Linked DNA regions of Homo sapiens. The protein of the gene in region 3 purifies or fractionates together with the protein of the main gene of each other region. This does not show direct contact. Each region holds a gene or a part of one and is shown on either strand. Other genes may lie near its edges.

The links.
Region 1: the proteins of KLF8 (region 3) and ZNF66 purify together in Homo sapiens (affinity purification with mass spectrometry; one large-scale study listed by BioGRID and IntAct). This does not show direct contact.
Region 2: the proteins of KLF8 (region 3) and GTF2I purify together in Homo sapiens (affinity purification with mass spectrometry; one large-scale study listed by BioGRID and IntAct). This does not show direct contact.
Region 4: the proteins of KLF8 (region 3) and YTHDF3 purify together in Homo sapiens (affinity purification with mass spectrometry; one large-scale study listed by BioGRID and IntAct). This does not show direct contact.
Region 5: the proteins of KLF8 (region 3) and HNRNPUL1 purify together in Homo sapiens (affinity purification with mass spectrometry; one large-scale study listed by BioGRID and IntAct). This does not show direct contact.
Region 6: the proteins of KLF8 (region 3) and ZNF516 purify together in Homo sapiens (affinity purification with mass spectrometry; one large-scale study listed by BioGRID and IntAct). This does not show direct contact.
Region 7: the proteins of KLF8 (region 3) and NSUN2 purify together in Homo sapiens (affinity purification with mass spectrometry; one large-scale study listed by BioGRID and IntAct). This does not show direct contact.

The regions. Positions count from the first base shown.
Region 1 is NC_000019.10:20,807,129-20,811,057, forward strand, and holds the end of ZNF66 (zinc finger protein 66), read left to right. Parts: coding exon 1-194; 3' UTR 195-2,867; downstream 2,868-3,929. UniProt on the Homo sapiens protein: May be involved in transcriptional regulation.
Region 2 is NC_000007.14:74,751,338-74,755,574, reverse strand, and holds part of GTF2I (general transcription factor II-I), read right to left. Parts: intron 4,215-4,237; coding exon 4,159-4,214; intron 3,486-4,158; coding exon 3,405-3,485; intron 2,482-3,404; coding exon 2,398-2,481; intron 1,730-2,397; coding exon 1,546-1,729; intron 67-1,545; coding exon 38-66; intron 1-37. UniProt on the Homo sapiens protein: Interacts with the basal transcription machinery by coordinating the formation of a multiprotein complex at the C-FOS promoter, and linking specific signal responsive activator complexes.
Region 3 is NC_000023.11:56,235,120-56,239,356, reverse strand, and holds part of KLF8 (Krueppel-like factor 8), read right to left. Parts: intron 1-4,237. UniProt on the Homo sapiens protein: Transcriptional repressor and activator. Binds to CACCC-boxes promoter elements. Also binds the GT-box of cyclin D1 promoter and mediates cell cycle progression at G(1) phase as a downstream target of focal adhesion kinase (FAK).
Region 4 is NC_000008.11:63,171,217-63,175,453, forward strand, and holds part of YTHDF3 (YTH domain-containing family protein 3), read left to right. Parts: intron 1-1,436; exon of another isoform or gene 1,437-1,524; coding exon of another isoform or gene 1,525-1,582; intron 1,583-2,434; exon of another isoform or gene 2,435-2,465; intron 2,466-4,114; coding exon 4,115-4,200; intron 4,201-4,237. UniProt on the Homo sapiens protein: Specifically recognizes and binds N6-methyladenosine (m6A)-containing RNAs, and regulates their stability. M6A is a modification present at internal sites of mRNAs and some non-coding RNAs and plays a role in mRNA stability and processing.
Region 5 is NC_000019.10:41,277,872-41,282,108, forward strand, and holds part of HNRNPUL1 (heterogeneous nuclear ribonucleoprotein U-like protein 1), read left to right. Parts: intron 1-1,205; coding exon 1,206-1,305; intron 1,306-3,291; coding exon 3,292-3,404; intron 3,405-4,237.
Region 6 is NC_000018.10:76,376,253-76,380,489, reverse strand, and holds part of ZNF516 (zinc finger protein 516), read left to right. Parts: intron 1-186; coding exon 187-1,635; intron 1,636-4,237. UniProt on the Homo sapiens protein: Transcriptional regulator that binds to the promoter and activates the transcription of genes promoting brown adipose tissue (BAT) differentiation.
Region 7 is NC_000005.10:6,605,033-6,609,269, reverse strand, and holds part of NSUN2 (RNA cytosine C(5)-methyltransferase NSUN2), read left to right. Parts: intron 1-1,885; coding exon 1,886-2,070; intron 2,071-2,357; coding exon 2,358-2,450; intron 2,451-3,861; coding exon 3,862-3,997; intron 3,998-4,237. UniProt on the Homo sapiens protein: RNA cytosine C(5)-methyltransferase that methylates cytosine to 5-methylcytosine (m5C) in various RNAs, such as tRNAs, mRNAs and some long non-coding RNAs (lncRNAs).

The DNA.
Region 1 (3,929 bases), on a different chromosome or scaffold from region 3:
AATGTGAAGAATGTGGCAAAGACTTTAAGTACTCCTCTACCCTTACTAGACATAAGAAAATTCATACTGGAGGGAAACCACACAAGTGCAATAAATGTGGCAAAGCCTTTATTTCATCCTCAAACCTTAGTAGACATGAGATAATTCATATGGGAGGGAATCCCTACAAATGTGAAAATGTGGCAAAGCCTTAGACACTCCTCTACCCTTACTAGACATAAGATAATTCATACTGGAGAGAAACCCTATGAGTTTGATGAATGTGGGAAAGACTTTAACCAGCTATCAACTTTTACTAAATATGAGAATTTATGGAACACAAACACTACAAATATAAAGAATGTGACAAAGCTTTTAGGAAGTTCTCAACCCTTATTACACATAATTCATACTGGATAGAAACCCTACACCTGTGAAGAATGTGGCATAGCCTATAACAATTTTCAATCAATTCTTTTTTTTTTTTTTTGAGATGAAGTTTCATGCTTGTCACCCAAGCTGGAATACAATGTGATGATCTCGGATCACTGAAACCTCTGCCTCCCGGGTTCAAGCCATTTTCCTGCCTCAGCTTGTCTAGTAGATGAGATTATGGGGGGTGGAGCCAAGATGGCTGAATAGGTACAGCTCCTGTCTACAGCTCCCAGCCTGAGCGACGCAGAAGATGGGTGATTTCTGCATTTCCGTCTGATGTACCAGGTTCATCTCACTAGGGAGTGCCAGACAGTGGCTGCAGGACAGTGGGTGCAGTGCACTGTGCATGAGCTGAAGCAGGGCGAGGCATTGCCTCACTCACGAAGCGCAAGGAGTCAGGGAGTTCCCTTTCCTAGTCAAAGAAAGGGGTGACAGATGGCACCTGGAAAATTGGGTTACTCCCACCCTAATACTGCGCAATTCCAATGGGCTTAAAAAATGGCACACCAGATTATATCCTGCAGCTGGCTCAGAGGGTCCTATGCCCATGGAGTCTCACTGATTGCTAGCACAGCAGTCTGAGATCAAACTGCAAGGCAGCAGCGAGGCTGGGGGAGGAGCGCCTGCCATTGCCCAGGCTTGCTTAGGTAAAGCAGCTGGGAAGCTAGAACTGGGTGGAGCCCACCACAGCTCAAGGAGGCCTGCCTGCCTCTGTAGGCTCCACCTCTGGGGTCAGGGCACAGACAAAAAGACAGCAGTAACCTCTGCAGACTTAAACGTCCCTGTCTGACAGCTTTGAAGAGAGTAGTGGTTCTCCCAGCACGCAGCTGGAGATCTGAGAACGGGCAGACTGCCTCCTCAAGTGGGTCTCTGACCCCCGAGCAGCCTAACTGGGAGGCACACCCCAGTAGGGGCAGACTGACACTTCACACGGCTGGGTACTCCTCATATAAAACTTCCAGAGGACCGATCAGGCAGCAGCATTTGTGGTTCATGAAAATCCGCTGTTCTACAGCCACTGATGCTGATACCCAGGCAAACAGCGTCTGGAGTGGACCTCTAGCAAACTCCAACAGACCTGCAGCTGAGGGTCCTGTCTGTTAGAAGGAAAACTAACAAACAGAAAGGACATCCACACCAAAAACCCATCTGTACATCACCATCATCAAAGACCAAAAGTAGATAAAACCACAAAGATGGGGAAAAAACAGAGCAGAAAAACTGGAAAGTCTAAAAAGCAGAGCACCTCTCCTCCTCCAAAGGAACACAGTTCCCCACCAGCAACAGAACAAAGCTGGATGGAGAATGACTTTGATGAGTTGAGAGAAGAAGGCTTCAGACGATCAAACTACTCCGAGCTACAGGAGGAAATTCAAACCAAAGGCAAAGAAGTTAAAAAATTAGACGAATGTATAACTAGAATAACCAATGCAGAGAAATGCTTAAAGGAGCTGATGGAGCTGAAAGCCAAGGATCAAGAACTACGTGAAGAATGCAGAAGCCTCAGGAGCCAATGCGATCAACTGGAAGAAAGGGTATCAGTGATGGAAGATGAAATGAATGAAATGAAGTGAGAAGGGAAGTTTAGAGAAAAAAAATTAAAAAGAAACAAAGTCTCCAAGAAATATGGGACTATGTGAAAAGACCAAATCTACCTCTGATTGGTGTACCTGAAAGTGAGGGGGAGAATGGAACCAACTTGGAAAACACTCTGCAGGATATTATCCAGGAGAACTTCCCCAATCTAGCAAGGCAGGCCAACATTCAGATTCAGGAAATACAGAGAACGCCACAAAGATACTCCTTGAGAAGAGCAACTCCAAGACACATAATTGTCAGATTCACCAAAGTTGAAATGAAGGAAAAAATGTTAAGGGCAGCCAGAGAGAAAGGTCGGGTTACCCACAAAGGGAAGCCCATCAGACTCACAGCTGACCTCTTGGCAGAAACTCTATAAGCCAGAAGAGAGTGGGGGCCAATATTCAACATTCTTAAAGAAAAGAATTTTCAACCCAGAATTTCATATCCAGCCAAACTAAGCTTCATAAGTGAAGGAGAAATAAAATACTTTACAGACAAGCAAATGCTGAGAGATTTTGTCACCACCAGGCCTGCCCTAAAAGAGCTCCTGAAGGAAGCACTAAACATGGAAAGGAACAACTGATACCAGCCGCTGCAAAATCATGCCAAAATGTAAAGACCATCGAGACTAGGAAGAAACTGCATGAACTAACGAGCAAAATAACCAGCTAACATCATAATGACAGCATCAAATTCTCACATAACAATATTAGCTTTAAATGTAAATGGGCTAAATGCTCCAATTAAAAGACACAGACAGGCAAATTGGATAAATAGTCAAGACCCATCAGGGTGCTGTATTCAGGAAACCCATCTCACGTGCAGAGACACACATAGGCTCAAAATAAAAGGATGGAGGAAGATCTACGAAGCAAATGGAAAACAAACAAAAAAAGAGGCAGGGGTTGCAATCCTAGTCTCTGATAAAACAGAATTTAAACCAACAAAGATCAAAAGAGACAAGGCCATTATATAATGGTAAATGGATCAATTCAACAAGAAGAGATAACTATCCTAAATATATATGCACCCAATACAGGAGCACCCAGATTCATAAAGCAAGTCCTGAGTGACTTACAAAGAGACTTACACTCCCACACAATAATAATGGGAGACTTAAACACCCCACTGTCAACATTAGATCAATGAGACAGAAAGTTAACAAGGATATCCAGGAATTGAACACAGCTCTGCACCAAGCGGACCTAATAGACATCTACAGAACTCTCCACCCCAAATTAACAGAATATACATTTTTTTCAGCACCACACCACACCTATTCCAAAATTGACCACATAGTTGGAAGTAAAGCACTCCTCAGCAAATGTAAAGGAACAAAAATTATAACAAACTGTCTCTCAGACCACAGTGCAATCAAACTAGAACTCAGGATTAAGAAACTCACTCAAAACCGCTCAACTACTTGGAAACTGAACAACCTGCTCCTGAATGACTACTGGGTACATAACGAAATGAAGGCAGGAATAAAGATGTTCTTTGAAACCCATGAGAACAAAGACACAACATACCAGAATCTCTGGGACACATTCAAAGCAGTGTGTAGAGGGAAATTTATAGCACTAAATGCCCACAAGAGAAAGCAGGAAAGATCCAAAATTAACACCCTAACATCACAATTAAAAGAACTAGAATTGCAAGAGCAAACACAGTCAAAAACTAGCAGAAGGCAAGAAATAACTAAAATCAGCAGAACTCAAGGAAATAGAGACACAAAAAAACCTTCAAAAAATTAATGTATCCAGGAGCTGGTTTTTTGAAAGGATCAACAAAATTGATAGACCGCTAGCAAGACTAATGAAGAAAAGAGAGAAGAATCAAATAGATGCAATAAAAAATGATAAAGGGAATATCATCACTGATCCCACAGAAATACAAACTACCATCAGAGAATACTACAAACACCTCTATGCAAA
Region 2 (4,237 bases), on a different chromosome or scaffold from region 3:
GAAAAAACAAAAACAAAACACTTCACAAAATACTCACGGTTATTAATCACAAGTCCTGGAAATGGTCTAAAGAGAGAAACAAATTGTAAAGTATAACAATTTATTTTCACTCTGTAAGAATTTACAGGTATAACTGTTTATTCAACTCATATCTAGCCCACGTCATTTACGTACTACAATGAGAAGTATTATCCGTGACCTTATAAGCTTATGGAAGAGATAGATACGTATCAATAATAAGAACACTGTTAGAAAGTGTTAAGCTACTAGTAAATGGAGGAAAAACAAAAAATAGAAACGCAGAGCAGGGAACAGAGTGATTCTAAGTTTAACATACGGAAGAACGGAAGGGGCTTTTTGCCTAACTCCTGGGAGTGATATGGAGAATGACGGTGGGTGAAGTGGAACCAAAATATGAGATTTTGAGGGAAAGAAGATTGGAAGAAGACGAGTGTATGAGAAGCCTCAAGAGGATTTATTATGAGATTTCTGAGTGCCAGTTCCAAGAGACCTGAACTAGAGACAGTGGCAATCTGATGATGAAATGATTGGGTAGGTTGAGTCGTAGCTGTTTCTGGGGGGCTGGAAGACAAAGGGGAAGATAACCTGGGGTTGGTGCTCAGGTGGGCATCTCTTACAGTGACAAGGACGTGGGAAGGAATGTGGCACTCACAATGGTGTCAGAGGTGAGTACAATCATCATGCCTGCTCTACGGGAAGGAGCTGACACTCTCAGTGGGAACAACGATCAATCTCATTTACAGACAAAGAACAGAGTGACCTGGCTAACAAATGGCTGATGCAAGGTTGAATCCGTCTGACCCGAAGCCTGTGACAAGGCGCCCTAAGACAGAGGTTGACAAAGTTCTTTTTTTCTTGTGATGGAGTCTCACTCTGTCGTCCAGGCTGGAGTGCAGTGGCATGATCTTGGCTCATTGCAACCTCCACCTCCTGGGTTCAAGCGACTATCCTGCCTCAGCCTCCCGAGTAGCTGGGATTACAGGCACCCGCCATCATGCCCAGCTAACTGTTTTATTTTTGTAGAGATGGGATTTCACCATGTTGGCCAGGCTGGTCTGGAACTCCTGACCTCAGGTGATCTGCCTGCCTTGGCCTCCCAAAATGCTGGGATTACAGGCGTTAGCCACTGTGCCTAGCTAAGGTTTTTCTACAAAGTGCTAGAGAGTAAATATTTTAGACTTTGGAGGCCATGCCTTCTCAGTCCCAGCTACTTACTCACTGTGACAGGAAAGCAGCCATGGATAATACGGGTGTAGCTGTGTTTCAGGAAGACTCTAAAAATAGGAGGCAGCCTGAATTTGGCAAACAGTCCTAGTTTGCCAACCCTTTGCCAAAGAATTAAAAGAGTCAGCTTAGTTCGTAGAAGCACATCTGACATTCTAATGATGACACAAGTTATTTTGATTTGTTGATTGCACAGCATAGGAAGCCGGATTCGATGACTACCTGTGGCTGCATTTTAGAAGAGTCAGCCTCATGAGCTCCAGATTCGCTCCTGTGACTAAGCAGGAAACTCTCACTTACCTAATGACCGTGAATTTGATAAACTCGGCAGAGTCTAAGATCCTTCTCATGGAGCTGATTTCCAGGTAGCTGGGGGCTTTGAAGGACACCCCCGGGGGCATGCCATCAACTACCACACAGCCAGGGTTAATTGTGATTTTCCTGTAGGGAACTTTCACAGGAAAACCCATACCAATAGCTTCACCTACAGGGACAGTGAGACAAACAGCACAACAGCACAGATTAACCCACCGCCTTAAACAGCCTGTCAAAAGCACAAGATCAACATTTATTTTAAAGACTGTCTCTGCTGTTAACTAAGGTCTTTGTACACTTCAAACAAATTTAAATATGAACCTTAAATTTTTTTTTTTTTTGAGACAGAGTCTTGCTCTGTCACCCAGGTTGGAGTGTGGTGGCTTGATCTCAGCTCACTGCAATCTCTGCCTCCCAGGTTCAAGCAATTCTCGTGCCACAGCCTCCTGAGTAGCTGGGATTACAGGTGTGCACCACCATACCCGGCTAATTTTTTGAATTTTTTAGTAGAGACAGGGTTTCACTATGTTGGCCAGGCTGGTCTCGAACTCCTGGCCTCAACTGATCCACCTGCCTCGGGCTCCCAAAGTGCTGGGATTACAAGTGTGAGCCACACTGCCAGATGGTGAACCTTAAATTCATTAACTTTCATACTGACAATCAATAGTGTAACACTAATGGTATCTTATTAAATAAATTTAGCACAAACAACTCACTTTTAAATTTTAACTCCTTTTATATAGGATTACAACCATCCAACCATCATCTGCTGAAAAGATCTTATTAAAACAAATCTCTTTGCTTATAGCAACTGTACTTTGCAAATGCAAAACTTACCAAATTTCCGACTAAAGAGGTCATTCACTTGTTCTCTTAGCTGTCTAGCTTTTTCAACTTTCGAGAGTCTTTCATTATCATCATCTGAAACAGTTCAGAGAAAACCCAAAACTTAAATACTGCTTTTTTTTTTTTTTATGGTAAAGAGATGGTATCTCACGATGTTGCCCAGACTGGCCTTGAACTCTTGGGCTCAAGCGATCCTCCTGCCTAAGCCTCCCAAGTAGCCGAGACTACAGGTACAAGCCGCTGCTCAATGATGCACTTTTAATCCCAATTTTTAGGAGCTCTGTGTAATGTTTTCAAGCATTTTCCATTTTTTAATGATTTAAGTATTTGAGCACTTTGAGCTAATTAAATTTGAAATTGTTTAAAATAATGCCTAACTAAAAATGCTACAAATTTATTCTTGTTATAAAGACCTTTACCTGCTGTTTTATATAGATTTTTTTTTTTTCCCAGATGGAGTATGGCTCTGTCACCAAGGCTGGAGTGCACTGGCCCCATCTCGGCTCACTGCGACCTCCACCTCCCGGGTTCAAGCACTTCTCCTGCCTCAGCCTCCCAAGTAGCTGGGATTACAGCCACACACAACCAGGCCTGGCTAATTTTTCTTGTATGTTTAGTAGAGTCAGGGTTTCACCACGTTGGCTAGGCTGGTTTTGAATTCCTGACCTCAAGCGATCCTCCTGCCTCAGCCTCCCAAAGTGCTGGGATTACAGGCGTGAGCCACCGTGCCCGGTCTCATATAGACTTTTTTTAAGGAACAGACTAGCCATTTGGGTGGTTAACAGGATTTAGCTCATGCCAAGTGCCAAAACTTGCCGTTGCTGTTTGGAGAGCAACTGTATTTGGAAGGCAACTGCTGTAGGAGTCTGGGAGGAGCACCAGGCAACGTGTAATGTATCCGAGTCCCCGGATGAGCTGAGCAAACCTCTCTAGTTGGGAAAGTCCAAGAGGCCCTGAAGAGACCCCCAAAAACTCTGATGGAAGCAGAGAACTCATACCTGGAATTGTCACCTGAATGATGTTAAGGTCTTCAACACCTGATGCAGTAGTATTAACATTGGGTGATGAATTTATTTTTCCTGAAAATATACATTTAAAATCAGAATTTGTAGAAAACACGGTCAACATCTCTAATAATCATGCTGTCTGAGACTGTTTTATCTCAGTCCTGTTCAAGGTTCTTTCTTTCCATGGTAGATCATTTCAAGAAGACATGATGCCCCCTGAAGGGCTGCCTTTCACTGTTTTTCTCTTCCTGGGGGTACTTAGGAGATCATCACACACTCACAGAGCCACCCAATTATTAAATAACTAAAAATTGTGAAATAGCCTGAACTACAACTTTGAATGGGTTTTCTTTTTTCTTTTTGAGATGAGTCTTGCTCTGTTGTCCAGGCTGGAGTGCAGTGGTGCGATCTCGGCTCACTGCAACTTCCGCCTCCCGGGTTCAAGTGATTCTGCTGTCTCAGCCTCCTGAGTAGCTGGGATTATAGGCGCCTGCCACCACGCCTGGCTAATTTTTTATATTTTTAGTAGAGACAGGGTTTTGCCGTGTTGGCCAGGCTGGTCTCAAACTCCTGACCTCAGGTGATCCACCCACCTCAGCCTCCCAAAGTGCTGGGATTACAGGCGTGAACCACCATGCCTGGCCTCAATGGCTATTCTTTAAACAATGTTTGTAAACCACAGCTGCACAATGCATGCCTAAGAGCGTGTGTTCTATAGCAATGAAAATACAGAAAATACACTCACTGGGAGGGCTCTTAGAGGAGGTGCTCTCCTTAATCGCCGTCTCAAACATTTCGGGCCTATAGACAAAAGAGAAAAAAAA
Region 3 (4,237 bases):
AAAAAAGCTGAGAGATTTTATAATACAGAGTGTACATTGGCACAAGGGAAAAATTAGCTGGAGATGATCAACAGCTGTCCCCTTTAGACAGGGCATGCTTTTCTCATTTTACTGGGCCCTGGAGATTTAAGTTTGAGATCCCAGGTCCGTGTGATGAGAAACAATTATGCATAAAATAATAGCAATCAAATATTACAAGATAATAGATGCTGCATTGCTGGATTATGATTTGAGGCTATGAGCAATAATTGGGAGAGGAGGAGATTACTGAGAATGGAATAGTCAGAGAAAATTTCAAATAAATGGTTTGCTTTGAGGTGGGCTTTGAAGAACTACGACAGTCAAGAAGAAACAGAAAGGAAATCCAGACGAGAGGAAAAGTAAACTGCATACTCCATGAAGGCAAGGGTCCCACCTAAACTGATAGTTTACCTAACCTAAAGTGGTAAGTTTACCACTATCACCTCAGCTTCTAGCATGATGCTTCCAACTTTGTAGACACCCAGTAAATGACTGTGGAGTGAAGGAGAGTAACATAATTTTTAAAAGTGTTTTAAGGAATATATCCTTGCAGTGGTCCTCAGAGTAGAGAGGGCAGAAAGAATCAAAGTAGAACTAGAAGCTATTGGAATATTCTATGAGTACTGCGGTAAGAGCTTACATAGGTGCCATAATCTCAATATCTAGACTAGGGGTCAGACAGGTTAAGGCCACCTAGGCCAGATGAGTAATGTGGTGAACAAAAAATACAAGTACTGTTTTAAAGGGGAGGGAGGGAGAGGCTCATCAACTCTAGGCAATTATTGCCAAGAGAGAATGCTGGTTCAGTATCTTCTGATTAGTCAAAAGAAACTGGAATTGAAGAATTTTTGTTTTCTTTTGAGACGGAGTTTCACTCTTGTTGCCCAAGCTGGAGTGCAATGGTGTGATCTCGGCTCACTGCAACCTCCGCCTCCCAGGTCCAATCGATTCTCCTGTCTCAGGTTCCTGAGTAGCTGGGATTACAGGCATGCACCACCACACCCGGCTAATTTTGTATTTTTAATATAGATGGGGTTTTACCATGTTGGTCAAGCTGGTTTCGAACTGCTGACAGGTGATCCTCCTGCTTTGGCCTCCCAAAGTCCTGGGATTACAGGCATGAGCCACTGCGCCCGGCCTAGAATTCTAGAATTTTAAGGGAAATCTGATTTTGAAATATTGGCAATCAACCAACTTTTAAAAGTGTGGGACTAGGCAATTTGACACACTGCTATGAACTGACTTGTGTTGTGTCCACTCTCCAAAAAAAAATTAATAGGTAGAAGACCTAACCTAGTGACTATATTTGAAGATAGGGCCTTTAGGAAAGAAATTAAGGTTAAATGAGCTCATAAAGGTGAGGTTCTGATCTGATAGGATTAGTGTCTTTCTAAGAAGACACACCAGAGAGAATTCACTCTTTCTCCTCCCATTTGTACAAAGATCACATGAGTACAAAGTGAAAAGGTGGCCTTCTACAGGTCAGAAAGAGAGTCCTCATGAAAATCTGACCATGTTGGCACCCTGATCATGGACTCCCAGCCTCCAGAACTGTGAGAAAATACATTTCTGTTGTTTAAGCCACTCAGTCAATGGTATTTTGTTATGGCAGCCTGAGCTCTCTAATGCACTGCTTACAAAAGTTTTTATTGTTATTACAAATAACACTGCAAAAGTTTGGAAATAACTTAAAGATCAATCAACAGAAAACTGTTTAAAAATTTGTGGCTCATGCATATAGTAAAAACCTATGCAGTCATAAAAAAGAATGAGGCATTTAAAAAATGTGCATATATGAAAATATCTCCAAAGTATATTTTTAAGTAGACAAGCAAGTTGTAGAGAACAATATGCAGAATGTGTTACTATCTGTGTATAAAAGGTGAAGGGGATATATATATACACACACACACACAAACACACACACACACACACATATATATATAATAGAAACTACCTCATAAGGTTGCAGTGAAGAATAAGTGTGTTAATTTTGTAAACACTTAGAAGAAGGCATGAAAGTGAAGTAAGCAGTGAGAAAATATAGTTGTTGTGGTACTTACATATATACTAATATTATATATGTATTATATATAATATGAGCTCATCTAACCTTAATTTCTTTCCTAAAGGCCCTATCTCCAAATACAGTCACAAGCTTAGGTATTAGGTCTTCAATGTATGAATTTTTTTGGGGGGGATGGGGGGGTCACAATTCAGTTCATGTCAGTATGTCAAGTTGCCTAGTCCCACACTTTTAAAAGTTGATTGATAACCAGTATTTCAAAATCAGATTTCACTTAAATTCCTAGAATTCCAGTTTCTTTTGAATAATCAGAAGATACTGAACCATATATATATATATATATATATCCATCTATCTATCTATAGAAAACCAAACATGATTTCACATTATCTTTGAGTAAACAAATGAGCCCAATACTACAATGTTATTCACACACACACACACACACACACACACACACAAACATACTCATTGCTTGATATACACTAAATATCCCTGGAGAGATTCCTAATAAATAGATAACATTAGTTGCCTCCAGCGAGGCAAAATGGGTGGCTAGAGAACAGGAATAGGAGGGAGACTTTTTTCACCATGCACCCTTTAGTAAATACTGAATTTTGAGCCAGGCGGAATGCATTACCAATTGAAAATGCATGTTTTAGTTGAAAGTTTTTAAATTTTAGGGAAAACAAAACACGTGTGAGCTTTAGTTGGTCTGTAGGCTAATTGTTTGCACGTCTCGCCTAAATTAAGGTGGTGGCAGTTAGAATAATAATAAAGAAACAGATACCAGATACAAAGGGGAAAAAATACAACAGCCATTGGCATCTAATTAAATGAGAAAATGAGGAAGAGGGGAAAGGGACATGAGTACCACAACAGCTACATTTTCCCACTGCTTCACTTTCATGCCGCCTTCTAAGTGTTTACAAAATTAACACACTTATTCCTCACAGCAACCTTATGAGGTAGTGTCTATTATTATCCCCAATGCACAGATATGACAACTAAAGTACAGAGTTTAAATAAGTTCACCATTACTATGGTCATAGTAAGTTGCAGAACCAGGGAAGTGAAAGGAAGAGTCTTGAATGAGGAATGAGTGAAGAGTCCAGAGGTGATGATGGGCTGTATATTAGAAATGGTGAGTGTGAGGTTACAACAAAATGTCAAATTGCTAGTGATTTGAAATATCTGGATTGGGCTCTTGAGTTAGGTTATTGCTCCTTAATAATCCTAGAGCTTAGTTTGCCCACATCACATCTATTTTGTCTAAATACACAAATAACATCTTTTAGTATATTATACAGAACATCTAGCACCTTTCATATATTTAAATCCAGCTTCCTGTCCACTAATCTACATTCCACTTCTGCAAACACACAGCAGCATTTAAATAAAACAAATTTTTTTAAATAACAAAAATGATGAGACCGCAACTTATGAAACATATTAGATATCAGGCACTGAGTTCAATGCTTTCCTTACATTATTTATAATCACAAATTATCATGTCATTTTAGAGATGAGGAAACAGGCTAAATGATGAAACTCAGTTGAGGATAGTAAACATTAGCATATAAAAATCAGGAAGAGGTTGGGCACGTGGCTCATGCCTGTAATCCCAGCACTTTGGGAGGCTGAGGTGGATGGATCACCTGAGGTTGGGAGTTCGAGACCAGCCTGACCAACATGGAGAAACCCCGTCTCCACTAAAAATACAAAATTAGCCAGGTATGGTGGTGCATGCCTGTAATCCCAGCTACTCAGGAGGCTGAGGCAGGAGAATCACTTGAACCTGGGAGGCGAAGGTTGCGGCAAGCCGAGATCACGCCATTGCACTCCAGCCTGGGCAACAAGGGCGAAACACCGTGTCAAAAAAAAAAAAAAAAATCAGGAAGAATACCAAACATGATCTCACACTGTCTTTGAATAAACAAATGAGCCCAATACTACAATGTTATTCCCTTATTCATACTCTACTTAACAATAAGATGGTAATCATACTAGATGATCATCTATGTCAATCATCCTAATTAAGTTTTCCTTCATTCACAAAATCATGGCATTGTAAAGCTAGATCTTAGAAGATCATATACTGCCCCCACCGCACCAGGCACAGACAATCTGGCAAGATCAAAAATGACTAGGCTCTGTTTGCTACTTTGGTTATTGGAATTCACTTAGCCA
Region 4 (4,237 bases), on a different chromosome or scaffold from region 3:
TGACTTGCCAAGTGAGCTTGAAAACATTTTACCTGTCTGTCAGAATCTCCCCTCTATAAAATAAAAATAACTCTAGTCATAATTCCCATAATTCCTATAGTATGTTGTTAGGATTCTTGTAATTACAGTAGTTCACTGCTCTAGTAGCAATTATATTTGCTGGATTTCTTTTCACTTTCCTCACTTAATCTATTTTTAAGGTGCAGGAAGACTCCTTTGCATGGAGCCTTGGCAGGAGGGGAAAAATGCTACTGGCCTGAAAGTATTGCTAATTATTTAAGTTTCTTAAAAATGGCAGATGCTACAAGTGCACAAATAACAAATATACGTTACTTGTATTTTTATGACTGCAGGGAGAATTACAAGGCAAAGGCAACACTACCAGTGAACCTGATATAAGTAGCTATGTGTGTATTTGAGAAAAGCTTTTCTGCCTTAGCTTGTTCCCAGCTCGTAAAATTGTTTTACAATTCTGTTTACTTTCATGAAGTTATTTTTCTTGAACTGCAACCTCAGTATTCTAAATATGAGTAATCTTGAATTCTGAACTTAGCAAGCTTATGAAAAATAGTATGTCCTTGAGAAGTTGGTGTCAGTTAAAGTTTTGAACACGTAATCCTTTTCAGTCAACTTACTATAATTTCAGAGATCCTGTTTCTTTTCTGAATTGTCTTTAGTTGACAGCTTTAGCCTAACACCTAGTTTTAGTGTCTTTGATTTTCTATATATCCTTAATTACTTAATTCATTACAGAAGCCAAAAGGAATTCTAAATAATTGTCTTTGATATGGCAAAAATGTTTTTTGTAGAATAAGTAATAATTCAAGGTTTACTTGTTTTATAAGTTTGAATTCTTTTTTAATTAAGTCTGTCCCTGTGTTAAATATCAGAACTCTTTATTATCCTTGGCAAGAGTAGTACCAAAGGATAGTAGAAATTTAAGGATAATTATTTGCCTATTGGTTCATAATTTAACACTTCGTATTTTATTTTTTTATTAAGTAGAATTTTTGCTTATTGGAATAAAGGTGTGCAGTACTTTTATTTGGGAGTACTATGGTTGGAAGTGTCAGATGCCATACTTACAGTCTTAGGCCTTACTGCCTCCTTTCTCCTCTAAGTTTATAAATAGCAAATTCATGGAACAGGATTTATCTTTTTCCTCCTCTCCGCTCTCTTCCAACGGAGAGACGTATGCATTGTTTTATACAACTGTAATTTAAAATAATTAGGTTAAATTTGGCTAAGTTTTAATTTTCGAAAAGTAGTGGAAAATGCCTTATATTTTGGCAATATTCTGTTGTATTCTCTCCTCGTCCTCCCGAGAAATGATTTCAAAGCACTTTACTATCATTATTTTAGGCTTCATTTTATCAATCCTCACAACATCCTTGTAAGGAGATAGCGGGTATATGGTATTGTCGCTGTTTTTGTAGGTGGGGAAACATGATGCACAGATCTGTTGACTTTCCTAACTTGATGTAGTCAGGACCAGAGCAAAGAATCACCTGGCTCCTAAGGCCCATGTTCTATCTTGATTTGACTCTGTTTCATAGAGCAGAGGAAACAGGCGAAGAATCATGTAAGTCATCTGTTCTTTTTACCCCTGAAGAAATTTTACAGACTATGGAACTAGCTTGGATTTCATTTCTATTTAATGGTTTTCAGACTCCAAGACATTAGCTTGTCATTAAGTAAATATTCAAAAACGAAAGTCTTTAAGATAGTTTTCTTTAAGATACACTTCCAAAACTTAAGGGCTAGTTTAATGCAAATTGCTTCTCGGTATATGTGAAGTACTTTTAATTAAACATTTTTTAAAGTAGATTGACTTTTTGTACTATATTTTAAGACTTTATAGACATTTATGCATCATTTAAAAATGACCGTAGACTGTATTTATAATAGTATATGGGTTGTTCTCAGGCCTAGCCTCTTAGAAGAGAAATAATAGAACAAAAAAAATAAGAATAACAGGATTATATTTATATATATATACAGATAAATTTTAAGTAAGTACTTTTTCCTTTTTTTTTTTTTAAATAGAGGCAGAGTCTCACTCTGTACCCCAGGCTGGAGTGCAGTGGCATAATCATAGCTCAGTGTAACCTGGAATGCCTTGGCTCAAGTGATCCTCCTTAGACTCCTGAGTAACTAGGACTATAGGCACATGCCACCACTCCTGGCTAATTTCTAAACATTTTTCGTAAAGGTGGGATCTTGCTGTGTTGCCCAGGCTGGTCTTGAGCTCCTGGCCTGGCACTTTTTGTATTTGTATGAACTAGATTTTCGAGAACCTAGTGGATATGAGAGATAGTTAGTCATAATTTTTAAGTTGTTAGCTGTTTCAAATACTGACTAACATGTATGAGTGTAATAGTGAAGAATTTTTTTTCAAGAAGTAATAGACCATGCATACTTACCTTTGATTTAGGAGCAGTAAAGCCAGTGTCAGAGGAGAACAGGTATGTCAGAATCTCTTGGACTGAAATGAATAACCCAGCCTTATAATGGCACTAGAAGTAACCTAAGGCACCCTCTTTATTTTGGTTTCTAGTGGCTATTACATATTTAAATTCCATGGAGCATATTTAGCTCAATCCTAGTTCTGATGCAGTCCTTATCAGACATAGTTAAATTATGTTAGTGGAGCCAGGATCAAGTTGACCTTCAGGTTGCTTCTTGTGGCCTCTGAGGGGCAGTGTGGTGTAGTAAGAAGTCTACTTTGAATGCTTTACACAGTAACATCATATCTTTGATCTTTGCCACTCATTGGATGGCAAAGATTTAAGGGATTTTGTATATCTTTGCTCCCAAGCCACTGTTAACTCATAATATTACATTTTAGGTGCTCTACACTCATGGGAAAATTTAAGGATAATAAAAATGTTATATTACAGAGGAATACGCAATTTAAACCCGTCACCCTCCTAACTTCATAAAATTTGGTGATGTTGTACCTTTGAGCAGTAAATCTTTAGATACTGAGTTCTTTTTGTTTCTAATTTGTAGACATCCATCGGAAACTTTCAACTTTATCTTCACTAGTATAGAATAGTATATTTACATAGTGCCACCTCATCAAGTATTAGCTTAGTAACACTTCTGTTTAAATGGTTCTAAAGTCATATTAGTCCTATTTGGATCTTGTAATATTTAATGTGATTACATTTAAGATTATTGAACACTGTCATTTAATAATCAGATGAGATGAGGTAGGTACTATTCATACATAACCTTCTGAAACAGCGAACAGTCAAAGGTTAGAGAGTTTAAATCCCTAACTGGAGATCATCTCCTCAGTGCTGGACTTGAGATTCAAATTCGGGACCTTACTTCTGAGTCTGCTCAAAAGCACTCTGAAACAGCATCCAGAGAATAACAACTTTAGAGTGTTTATGGAGATGACCTTTGAACAAAATTATTCTCTGACTTGTTTCTCATGTATTGCAAGGATAATTATGGCTATCTTTTGTGTCTTAATTTTGTTTGTAGTTTCATGTGAAAGTCTTCATTCTGGGGGGCTTAGAATTAAAGCCCTCTTTATTTAGATATTTCATAATTATAAGTCTATTCATTGTGATATTGTTTCAAGTTAATTTTAGCCTAAACTTTACTGGAGACATTTAAGACATTTACTATAACAAATTAGATCGAAAATAGTTATTTCATTCTTTATTATACTAAATAATTTAGAGATTTAAACAAAGGTAGAGAACATTCAGAAATCTTTTTTATTGCCTACAACGCTACTTGAAATAGTTATTTTACATTCAAATATAGCATTAGGGAACTCTTTCCAACATTCTTATGTAACAATTTACTCACTACAGTGTTGAGATTGGGATATTTACTTAAAGTTTTTGGTAAGGGGAAGTGTATATATGGCTTGTGTTTATGTAATCTTGGGCTTATGTATCAAAAGACTTTTAAGTTTTTGTGGCACATGAATATTTGTATCTAAAATAGTTTATCCTTAAGAGGGTTCTTAAAAATAACTCAGTATTATTTTTTCTGATTACTTTTTTTGGCTTGAAAAATATTAAAAACATTAGGTTGTGCTGCGAGTTTCATAAAGATAACTACAACACTTCTAATACAAACATTTTTTTAGTTTCAGTACAAAACGGTTCGATTCATCAAAAAGATGCTGTAAATGATGATGATTTTGAGCCATACTTAAGTAGCCAGACAAATCAGGTAAGTCTTCTGACAGTTTCAGATTTTAGGAAATTAA
Region 5 (4,237 bases), on a different chromosome or scaffold from region 3:
TGTCTGAAAAGCCAGTGAGGCCACAGGTAGATACGGATATTCGGCAGTCTAGTCTTTTAATACGAAATTAAGTCAGAAGGCTTTTTTTTTTTTTTTAACTTAATACTGTATCTTGGACATTTTTCCATAGCAGTACATTAGCCCAATGTACTGCTTTGCTCCTTGTTTTTTGTTTGTTTGATTGTTTGTTTTGTTTGTTTTGTTTTGTTGACGGAGTTTCACTTGTTACCCAAGCTAGAATACAGTGGCGCAATCTCTGCTTACTGCAACGTCTCCCTCCTGGGTTCAAGCGATTCTCCTGCCTCAGCCTCCCAAGTAGCTGGGATTACAGGTGCATGACGCCACGCATGCCTAATTTTTTGTATTTTTAGTAGAGACGGGGTTTCATGATGTTGGCCAGGCTGGTCTCGAACTCCTGACCTCAGGTGATCCACCCACCTTGGCCTCCCAAAGTGCTGGGATTACAGGCTTGAGCCACCGTGCCCGGCCTACTTTGCTCTTTTTAACTGTTGCATCATATTTTGTGGCATGGATATACCATAATCAGTGCTTTATTGATATTTTTTCTGATGTTAAAATATATATATATATATATATGTGCACATATATACATCCAATGCTGCACAGAATGTTGCATATACAAATACAGTCACACATACGTAGACATACTTGTCCACATATTAGTGTATCTATAGGATGCTGAGTTATAGAGCATGTGCATTTATGGGGTTTTGTTGTTTTTTTCTTTTAATGTTTTTGTAAAGATGGGGTCTTGCTATGTTGGCCAGGCTGGTTCCTAACTCCTGGCCTCAAGCCATCCTCCTGCCTTGGCCTCCCAAAGTGTTGGGATTACAGGTGTGAGTCACCATCCCCAGCCATTTACAGTTTTGATAGAGACTTCTAGATTGCCCTCTAAAGACACTGTAACAGTTTATCTTTCTACTAGATGTTACAAGAGTCTCTTAAACTAAAACATAACCGTATTTTGAAATGCCTGTCTCTGTGGCCCTGTACTCTACTGATCCCTTTGGAGGCCCTGGCTTCGATTCGGTTCAACAGGCTTTTCAGAGCTGCTTAAACGCTTCTTCTCCAGCAAGAAAAGCCATTGCTATTTTTTAATGCCTGATATGCTTCCCTCCTATATTGGCTCATAACCTACGGCCTCCAGAGAAGCAACCCTGAGCCCTTTTGTCCTCTTTCCTCAGATCAATGAGGAAATCTCCGTGAAGCACCTTCCGTCTACAGAGCCTGACCCCCACGTGGTCCGTATCGGCTGGTCCCTGGACTCCTGCAGCACCCAGCTAGGTAAGGAGGGGTCAGCTATGCAGTCCAGAGAATAGAGTGACTGTCCCTACCCTTGGATTTTCAAGGCTCCTAAGCTTCCTTTTCCAGCGTCAGACTTAGAATAGAACTAGGCTGAAGTGGAACAGGTACAAGGATTAGGTATATGCCACTGTCTCTGTCATGCTGTATTCAACTGAGAGGACTATGGTCATGAAACAACTTTTCTGTGAAGAATCAATTCTTATCCTTCATCTTTTAGGAGAGGGTCCAAAATTCTCTTTAGGAATCTATTCCCTTTCTGTAAAAAGGATCAGTGTCTCCTGCCCTTAAACCAAGCTGCTGATAAGTTCCCAAGCTCCATTAAGTTCTGTCTGTATTTTCTGTCCGGAGCCTAACCTAGAGGAAAAAGGGGAGCAGAGACCAGTGAGGCCAGGGCTAGTTGGGAGAGGGGCAGGGGCTGCCTATTGAAAGGTTTTGAATTTTGCGGGTCCCCAGGCTTCAATGACCTTCTGGTCCCAAGTGACTGATTATTCTGACCAATGCTGACACCTCCTGCCTTCCGTTTATGATCATACAAACGTTCCAATTATGAAAATAATATGTGTTGCGTATAAGAATTCAGGCCATACAGAAAGGGAAAAATGAAAATCCTTCCTAAACCTGTGAGAGAAACTAACCAATGTTAACATTCCATTTGTAGTCTTCTGGACATTTATTTTTTTGTACATCTTTAAACTGGATCACACTAGGACTACTTTGTATAGCCTTGTTTTAATGTATGATGGGCATATTTTTGTAAATAACTGCAGCTTTTTGACTACTGCATAATTTTCCATTTTATAGTTGCATTATTTAACAAGTCCCCTTCTGTAGCTCATTTAAACTTATTGCAAATTTTTGCTGTTTTAACACTTGAGCCATTATCCTGGTCCATAATTGCCTGACCACTTAAGACTAATCTTTAAAAATAGATGATATTCTCACTCACAAGTGTTTGTTTAAAAAATATGTTCACATGGACTTAGAGAGTGGAATAATAGATAATGGAGACTCAGAAGTGTTAGGGGGTAACAAGGTGGAGGAGGATGAGAAATTGGTTAATGGGTACGATGTACATTTTTTAGGTGATGAACACCCTAAAAGCTTGACCACTATGCAATCTGTGCATGTAACAGAATTGCACATGTACCCCATAAATTGGTACCTCCTCAAAAAGGTAGATATGTTAGCACCAAAAAAAAAAAGTATACAGTTTTCATTTCCATATGTGTTAGCACTTTTTATTTAAGACTCATAAGTCATCTCATCTTATCTCTGTCTCCGTTTTGAGATGTAGGTGGTGGCAGTTGATAGGGATGGGGAAACAGCCCAGGAGGTCAAGCACCATATCCAGGGTCACATAGCTGGTTTGTAGCAGAACGAGCCCTGGCATTCATGCTTGTCGGCCCCTGCTTTTCTAACAGCATACTCTTTGGGTTCTGCCCGGAATCTCTAACTCAGGTGTCAGCCAGAGCCCTTGGGATCTCTCAGTCATATCACTTCAGCACCCAGTTCTGTAGCCTGAGGAAATCTAGTACCTTTCCCAGGGGTCAGTCCTCATGGTCTCCAGGAGCAAAATCCAGCCCCTTCACTGATTTCTACCACAAGTAGACTGGACTGAATATTGGGTGTCACAAGGAAGGGTTGCATCTCAGCATACAGCCATTCTCCTCCATCCCAACTCCTGTCTTCCTTCCTCCCTTTCTTTTCAAATTCTCCCCTCTGTGCAGAGTTATTCAGTTGAGCTCCTACTCCCAGACTGGACAATGAAACCCATCAAGCCCTCCAAGTTCTACATCATTAAGGGCTTCCTTTCACCCTTCCCCACCCCTATTTTAAAAAGGCATCTGATTAATAAAACTAGTAAAGAAAATGATTTTTTTCTTCAAAAATAAAAGTATGTGGCAGCCATTGAGGCTGTTATGACCATCGCAGGTTTAACCTGCCTTTGCCTATTTCTTCCGTCAGGCGAAGAGCCTTTCTCCTATGGCTATGGAGGCACTGGGAAGAAGTCCACCAATAGCCGGTTTGAAAACTACGGAGACAAGTTTGCAGAGAACGATGTGATTGGCTGCTTTGCGGTGAGTGCTAGCAGCCTGTGGGAGTTGGCAGAACCAGATGTTGGGCTACAGACTTCTTTTTCAGGATACCTCTATCCATTGTCTGCCCCATATCCAGCCACTCTCGCCATACTTCTTTGTCTCTGCTTGACAGACTGGAATGTTTACTGTCATTTTGTGGGAAATTCTGTCATTCCATCTCCTCTGGTCTTGTGTGCAAAGTTTTCAGATGACACCCTGAAGAGGTTTGGGGACTTCAGGTGTGCATAGCCTTCCTCCGTTCCTAGGTACCAGAGTAACATTTTCTAAACAAACCTAGGAATTTCTTATCTTTCATTGCTAGGAAATAGCCTGTCTGCTCCTGAAGGCAGTGGTATTGGCTCTTGCCCCATGTTGGCATCATCTTATCCCAAAACTTCTCCCTTTCTTCATCTCACATTGGTTGAGCCAGGCTTCCTACAATGCACTGCCTTCTGGAAGAGTAGAGATGATGCAAAACAGAACAGCTGTTGCTGCCATACTTCAGTCTTTGAGAACAGTGACCAGCAGTCACCTTGCTGTGCAGTATGGCTGTCAGCTCTGGGCTGGACTCCCTGGACCCAGTTATGTTCTTCCATTCAAGCCCTGGGCAATTTACCCTTCTTGTTTTTCAGTTCCCTCTAAATGAGAATCTTTGCACCTACCTCAGAATTTTGTGTGGAGTCATTAAGTTAATCCATTAAAAGCACTTATAATAATGCCTGACACACAGTAAGTGCTCAGTAAATACCACTTAATACTGTTAACATTAGGAGTTATAAGAGATGTTTGTAAAATGTGCCGTAAGGCCCCAGAGGAAGTGACCACCTGGATGG
Region 6 (4,237 bases), on a different chromosome or scaffold from region 3:
ACTCACCCCCTTTTGTTCTTGTCTGGGTGGCTCCTCAGGGGTTTTCTAAGAGCCACCCAGACTCAAGGGTGGCTTCTCCCGCTGAAGACAGATGGCTTGGAACATGCTGTAGCTGTACGCACCGTGTGTCTTGCTGTGTTCTGATGAGAAATGGTAACTTCCCGTTTCATATTTTGCCTCCTCTAGGGGGACAGCCGCGCCGCTGCTGCTTTTCCGAAGAGGTGACTTCGACCGAGCTCTCCAGTGGAGACCAGAGTCACAAGATGGGAGATAACGCCTCGGAAAGAGACACCGGCGAGTCCAAGGCAGGGATCGCAGCTTCTGTGTCCATACTTGAAAACAGTAGCAGAGAGACTTCTAGAAGGCAAGAGCAGCACAGATTTTCTATGGACTTAAAGATGCCAGCATTTCACCCCAAGCAGGAGGTGCCCGTCCCTGGTGATGGTGTGGAGTTCCCTTCCAGTACGGGAGCGGAGGGCCAGACGGGTCACCCTGCAGAAAAGCTGTCCGATTTGCACAACAAGGAACACTCTGGGGGAGGGAAGCGGGCGCTGGCCCCAGACCTCATGCCGCTAGATTTAAGTGCGAGGTCGACGCGGGATGACCCCAGCAATAAGGAGACGGCCTCCTCCCTGCAGGCGGCTTTAGTCGTTCACCCGTGTCCTTACTGCAGCCACAAGACCTACTACCCCGAGGTCCTGTGGATGCACAAACGCATCTGGCACCGCGTCAGCTGCAACTCCGTGGCTCCCCCGTGGATTCAGCCCAATGGTTACAAAAGCATCAGAAGCAATTTGGTTTTCCTTTCCCGGAGCGGACGCACGGGCCCCCCGCCTGCCCTCGGTGGCAAAGAATGCCAGCCTTTGCTCCTTGCTCGGTTCACCCGCACTCAGGTGCCAGGGGGGATGCCGGGGTCCAAAAGTGGCTCTTCTCCCCTGGGAGTGGTCACAAAAGCCGCTAGCATGCCTAAGAATAAGGAGAGCCATTCCGGAGGTCCCTGCGCTCTGTGGGCGCCCGGCCCTGACGGGTATCGACAGACCAAACCTTGTCACGGCCAGGAGCCACATGGCGCGGCCACACAGGGGCCCCTGGCCAAGCCCAGGCAGGAGGCTAGCTCCAAACCGGTGCCTGCCCCGGGTGGCGGGGGCTTCAGCAGGAGCGCCACCCCTACGCCCACCGTCATCGCCCGGGCTGGCGCGCAGCCCTCGGCCAATAGCAAGCCTGTGGAGAAGTTTGGGGTCCCCCCAGCGGGGGCTGGCTTTGCCCCCACAAATAAGCACAGTGCCCCGGACTCCCTGAAAGCCAAATTCAGTGCTCAGCCTCAGGGTCCACCTCCTGCAAAGGGCGAAGGGGGCGCTCCTCCTCTACCTCCCCGCGAGCCCCCCTCGAAGGCAGCCCAGGAGCTGAGGACTCTGGCCACCTGTGCTGCGGGGTCCAGGGGCGACGCGGCCTTGCAGGCCCAGCCCGGCGTGGCTGGGGCGCCCCCCGTCCTACACTCCATCAAACAGGAGCCGGTGGCCGAGGGGCATGAGAAGCGCCTGGACATCCTCAACATCTTTAAGACGTACATTCCAAAGGACTTTGCGACCCTCTACCAGGGATGGGGTGTCAGCGGCCCTGGGTTGGAGCACAGAGGTAAGATGTGCGGGCCCTCTCTTCCCCAGGCCACATGTGACCCCCAGAACCACCCCCGGAGGGCCAGGGCTGCTGCGCACCTGCCTGTCCATGTCCCTGAGGACAGAGCCAGCCGGCCCCATCCCACTGCTGAGCTGAGAGCTGCTCCCTTGCCCTGGCCGAGGAGCACAGCAGATGGGAACAGCTCTCCCAGGCTCCACATTCTGCCCTGCCGGGGAATGCCTGCCTGGGGTTGGTGGCCCTCTGCACGTTGGCCCTGGGAGGAGGTCGCAAGCCCTGCACGGCTTCCTTCCTGCTGAGAGGACGTTTCCTCCACACCGACATTCCGCAGGAGCAGGCCGACGTGATTGCACTTCACGTGTTTGTCATTTTAAACAGAATCCGTAGATGTTCATTGTCCTGTCTCTCAAAAGACAAGAATATTCATTTAATGTATTAAGTTTTATTTTTATTCATCTGTAATTAAAAAAACACCTAATTAGTCCTCTAATATTAGTAAGCAAAGCTTTGCAGAGGATCGATGTACCATATAAAGTCTGGAGAATGGGATTTGTGCAAAAATTCCTGAAAAAAATACTTGGAAAAGGTTATCTTCCCTTCTCCCTCTGCCTTAGTATTGCTATCTGATAGTAACACTGAGAAGCAGTTGCTAGCTTTCCTCCTGCTCCTCCGGCACGCGCACTGCATGCGGTGCCCCGTTCTGGAACATAATTGAAGGTCACTCTCACTTAACGTCCAGAACACAAACCTAAGTTCTGTTAAAAATCAAAACAAAACAGAGTCTCTCAGTTCATTGCCTGGGAAGTCCTAACCGTTCTTCGATAGAATTGTTTGTCGTGGCCAGGCATGGTGGCTCAACGCCTGTAATCCATGCACTTTGGGAGGCCGAGGTGGGCGGATCACGACGTCAGGAGTTCAAGACCAGCCTGGTCAATATAGTGAGAGACACCATCTCTACTAAAAACACAAAAATTAGCCAGGCATGGTGGGGTGCACCTGTAATCCCAGCTACTTGGGAGGCTGAGGCAGGAGAATTGCTTGAACCCAGGAGGCGGAGGTTGCAGTGAGTAGAGATCGTGCCACTGCACTCCAGCCTGGGTGACAGAGTGAGACTCCATCTCAAAAAAAAAAAAAAAAAATAACGTTGTAAGCCTGTGGTTTCTTAAAGTGGTTACCATTAGAACATCTGAGATCCAGGGCTGCAAACTCCAGGCAGCTGGCAGGACTGTCAGGGGCATGGTTCTGGGTCTGGGAGATATCAGCAGACAGCCTCCCCAGATCCACCGTGGGACAGTGTCCCAGTGGGTGCTGGGGTCACCTGCTGAGCTCCTGGCTTAGGCCGGGGTTTCAGAGCCTGCCTAGATCCATGGCCTGGCAGGGCTGTCTTGGCATGAGGGATGCCCACCCAAGGTGTTTTCCAGTAGGAGACATCACAGGCCTGCTGCCCCTCTTACAGATTTGCTGGCAAAGGCCTTACTCCAGCCAACCTTGTTACATTCCTGCTTTGAAGAGCCCGCTGAGCACTTGTGAACTTTTTAGGATGAGGCCGTAGGCCCGGACACCCGAGGGTCTCGTCATTCACGTTGGCTTGAGGTGTGACTCAGGAGTGGCGTCCCTGAGGCGTGGTCTTAGATCCTCATCTTCTCCCCGCCCATGTGCTCTGGGTGGACGGTGTAACCTGAGGAGGCTGTCGTGGGTGGGAGGCGCGGCGCAGTGCCATGTGGATTGATGGTTTGACTTTTTCCACGTTCAGTTACAGTGAGCGAGTTCCCTCAGCGTCAGCAGGGTTTCTCAGTCACGTAGATTATTTGCTGCTAAGTGGAAAACAAGTTGGTTGGTGGCCTTTTGATGTGATGCCAGCCTCACTTCTGGAGATGTGGGGTTTCTTGGAACCCAAAGCAGAGAAGGCTGAGTGGTGAGGTCTGTGCTGTTGTGGATGCTGGGTGTTCCCAGCTGCACCTGGCCCGCTGTGTCCTTCCCCCGGTGGCCGCCTCCCAGCAGAGCAAGGGGAGTTTGACGCCCACTTGATCCACCGGACTCATAGTTTTAATTAATCATGCCCTCCAGCCTGCGTGCACCCTAGGTTCTAAACAACCTGCCAGCTCACACCTGGAAAGTGCCGTCCCCCGTTTTTAAAGGCTTTTGAGCTGCCCTGTGGGTGGCGTAGTTGCTGTTTCTAAGAAAGTAGAAGTGAGTTTTAAGGTCAGGTTTTGAAATTTTAGATGATAGAATTTGAAGTCCAAAATAGTCTGAAGTATTTTCCCTTTTCTTACAGACATTTTAAAAAATAAATGGTTCTAAGGTCTTTTTTTTTTTTTTTTGAAAGAGAGAGGTTAAATATTTATCTTTCATATGTGAAAAATACTAGTCACAAAGTACATGCACTCATCTTGGGTTATTTATTCTTCTAATGTACACATTGAGACATAGTGTGAGTCAGCAAATTTAGGGTTTCTAAGTGTACTGTAAATTGGGTTTCTTAAGGGAAGTGCTCTCACCTTTTTGGTCTTAAAATATACCTGTTAGTAGGTGCATTATTAGGATCCTGGCTTCCCGGGTATAGAGTACCTGAGGTCAGCCTGTTTAGATACTTGGTCAGTGC
Region 7 (4,237 bases), on a different chromosome or scaffold from region 3:
GTCCTTTGTAATGCGTGCTGTCTCACCTGTATCACGCCAGCATTATTTATTAGTTCATAAATCAGCCTTCCATGATGAAAGAACCTGGCCTGGAATCAAAGTCTGGAAGTCTGTATTTCTTTAAGATCCATGCTTGAAAATTAGGACAAAAAACGCTTAGCTTTGGAGGAACAAAAAGGAAACAGTTCCGCAAAGAGCTCCAGCCTTTTTCTGGGGCACGGTTTGTGCAGTTTAACGTTGGAACGTACAGCCTCAGACGGGCAAAGGGGGCGACTGCACTTCTGCCGCCACCAGGGTTTTTCTGTCAGGTTAGAAAGTATTTCACTTTGAGGCTAAAAGTCTCACAAGGTATCTTAACGCTGATGGAATGTTATTTTCATGGAATCAGTATAAGAAATTATATTGTAAAGTATTAGATACTTTGCATTCATTCATACTAGGTTTCAGTAGCTTGTGTTTTAGACTTTGCGCTTGTCACATTTTAAGTGGTCAGTGACCACAGGCTTGTGGCTGCCCAGCTGCAGAGCACAGTGCAGTCACAGAGGAGCCTGTCTTAGAGACGCGTGCTTTAGGTTGGCCTGCATTAGGGCTTACATTGATGTTTCTGACGTGTTAATACTTACATAGAAAGGTTTTGACATTTTTTCAATTAGCCCCTTATGTATAGTCTTACTTTTTAGAACAACTTATTGTCATTTTCTCGTTTAAATAATATGAATACTTCTCTCTTTCTGTTACTATGTCAGTTTCTTATTCACTTAGTTCAACAGATCTAGTGCTAGCATGGCCTGTGCTGCTGTTGGTCCTACTGGGAACGCAGGTAGAGTCTCCATGGTCAGGATGCCGTGTTCTGTTGTGGTGCTGAGGCCTGTAAGCACTTGGCTAGAAGTTAGGCCAGGGAAGCTCACACTGACCTTGGTATTTGAAGGTCCCAGAATGAGGTTGTTGAGGTAGAACAGAGATGGGAGAACATGCCCTTGGAGCTGGACTCAACAAGAAGGCCCCTCTGGGGGAAGCTGAGGTTGGACAGGAAGGGCGTGTGCCCTCACTGACTTGCTCACAGGCTTGGGGTTCATCTGTTTTGGTTTTTGCTTTTTTACATTATATTAACATGGAAATAAAAGGTGTTCCCTGGGATGCTCCCGGCTTCTCTGCTCAGTAGCTTTGTGGCTCTGAGTAAAATGAACTTGCCTGTGTTGAAATATCCTAATTTTTAAACTTACTTCATAGGGACTGAGGAATTACGACTTTTATCAATTTTGTGACCTGTTAAAATGTTAAAAAGGACATGTATTTTTTAAAGATCTTTAAGTAAAACATTTTGCTCATTCCCAAAGCCAAATTTAAATTATACCATGGCCCTAATTCAGAAGTTCATTCTTTGGCAGGTGTTTCCTTGGTGCCTGGGGCACTCTCTCTTTCTCCCAGTTCCTGTGGCAGTTTGTCCAGGTGCCCAAGAACAATTCATACCCTCCTTTCTCGTTATTTATATACTTGTCTTTTTGCCCCTGCCGGGTATTTTAGAAATCGTGCTTGGTGCACTTTGTGTCCTTCAGTGTGCCTTACCCAGAGCAGATGCACGATAAGCATTTTTACACGAGAACAAGCTGGTGGTGTAGGCCTCTGCTAAGGAACAGGCTGTATATGCTCTTTGTGGGATTAAGGTAGAATCAGCTTTAACTCCAAAGAAACTGTCCATGAATTTTGTTTATAATAGCAAGTAGATTTAAAATGACACTTTAAAAAAATTCTGTTGTCTTTCTCTACATATAATGCTGTAGAAAAATATAACTGATGGATTTTGTGAACGTGGTATTTTTAACTTTTCGTAGCAGCACAAAGAATGCTCCTCTTTGTGTGTCAATGAAATTGTTCTTTATGACAGCTTCAGGGTAAATCTGCAGAGACCAGAGAAAGCACACAGCTGAGCCCTGCAGATCTCACAGAAGGGAAACCCACAGATCCCTCTAAGCTGGAAAGTCCGTCATTCACAGGAACTGGTGACACAGAAATAGCTCATGCAACTGAGGATTTAGAGAATAATGGCAGTAAGAAAGATGGCGTGTGTGGGTAAGAAAAGTGGTTATGTCTTGATCTAATACGCTGGTGTCTTCACAGTCCTTTTGGATTAAATGGGATCCCAGAGCCACTTCTTGGTCGGTTTGAGGGGGCAGTACATGTGTGGTATCAGGCACATGCAGTGTGAGGGCTGGACTCTGTGGAAGCCGGAAGGTTTCAACATCTGCCGCAAACCGTTCCATGTTGCACAGAACTGACAGAAAGGAAGAATGTGCTTTTGGTATTGAAGGTTACCACACATTACAGATTGATTTGTCTCATCCTGATTCCCTTTTTAGTCCTCCTCCATCAAAGAAAATGAAGTTATTTGGATTTAAAGAAGATCCATTTGTATTTATTCCTGAAGATGACCCATTATTTCCACCTATTGAGTAAGGATTCAGCCTTTTTAATTATTCATTTAAAGAAATTTACTATAGAGTATCAAATGTACAACTGATCACATGTAACCATTGTTTTGTATGTAGTTCTGTCTAGCTTTTTTTTTTTTTTTAACCTTTTTAACTGCATATTAGAGCAGGATGAAACTTTAGAGGTTACTCAATCTTTTAATTTAAGGAGAAAGTAAACTTTTACTTTGTGAACATGATAGATAAAAAAAAACTGGACCGGGCGCGGTGGCTCACGGCTGTAATCCCAGCACTTTGGGAGGCCGAGACGGGCGGAGCACGAGGTCAGGAGATTGAGACCATCCTGGCTGACACGGTGAAACCCCGTCTCTACTAAAAATACAAAAAAAATTAGCCGGGCGTGGTGGCGGGCACCTGTAGTCCCAGCTACTCTGGAGGCTGAGGCAGGAGAATGGCGTGAACCTGGGAGGTGGAGCTTGCAGTGAGCCGAGATCGCGCCGCTGCACTCCAGCCTGGGCGACAGAGCGAGACTCCGTCTCAAAAAAAACAAAAGAAAACTGGACTGTGATTATGAATCTAAATTAGTTGTGATCCTGAACCTAAATTACTCAATTGAGTATATAGACGAGTAGCCAAGGTTGTCTAGTTCAGTTTCTGTAGAAGAAATGAAGAGCAGCATGGGTGAGGGCTAATTAGGGATGACATAGACAGAATATAGAGGAAAAGGGTTTAGGACAAGTCTGACATTCATCTGTTTCTTATTCATTGAATTTTAGAATCTATTTACCAGGGCGGTCACTTACTGTCTTTTTTAATAACTGGTCCTTTGCATACATTTGTAAAAGTCTATTAAAAAATAAGTCTCAGCCGGGCACATCCCAGCACTTGGGGAGGCTGAGGCAGGCAGATCATGAGGTTAGGAGTTTGAGACCAGTCTGACCAATGTGGTGAAACCCCGTCTTTACTAAAAATACAAAAAAAAATTAGGTGTGGTGGCGTGCACCTATAATCACAGCTACTCAGGCTGAGGCAGGAGAACCGCTTCAACCCGGGAGGCAGAGGTTGCAGTGAGCTGAGACTGCGCCACTGCACTCCAGCTTGGAAGACAGAGCAAGACTCCATATCAAAAAAAAAAAAAAAGTCTCAAAAGTAGTGTTATCAGGTCATTATCATTGGAGTAGCGGCTGAGGGAGAGAAGCTGCACTTGTTAATTTAGGTTTCTGATGGAGTTGTGCCCCAAATAAATGTTACGTGGAGGTTTCAGGTGGAAGTGGATGAAGTTTAGAAGCTGGAGTCCAGAGCAGAGCCCAGTGCCCTTGAACCACACTGCAGTTTTGGGGATTGAATTCTGGAGGAGGAGAATAAGATGTTTAGAAACAGTCTACCAGATTTTGAACTCATTGTGGATAAACAACAATGTTGTTATGTACAGGAAATTTTATGCTTTGGATCCTTCATTCCCAAGGATGAATTTGTTAACTCGGACTACAGAAGGGAAGAAAAGGCAGCTCTACATGGTTTCTAAGGAGTTGCGGAATGTGCTGCTGAATAACAGTGAGAAGATGAAGGTGCCAGCCGCACAGACGCTGAGTGCTGTGTGATGCGGGATGCGTGTGGCTTTTCACAGCGGCTTAGATTTCATTTGGAGCAGACCGTGACATCTGCCCTCCCCACCTGTAGCGCTGGCTGTGGGTCCCTGAGCCTGCCCTTTGATTTCAGAGCTGTTGACTGACACAGGGCTGAATGGTTCCTGCCAGAGTCCTGAATCTGGTGGCCTGTGTCTTTTCTGTGCCCCATTCCCGCAGGGG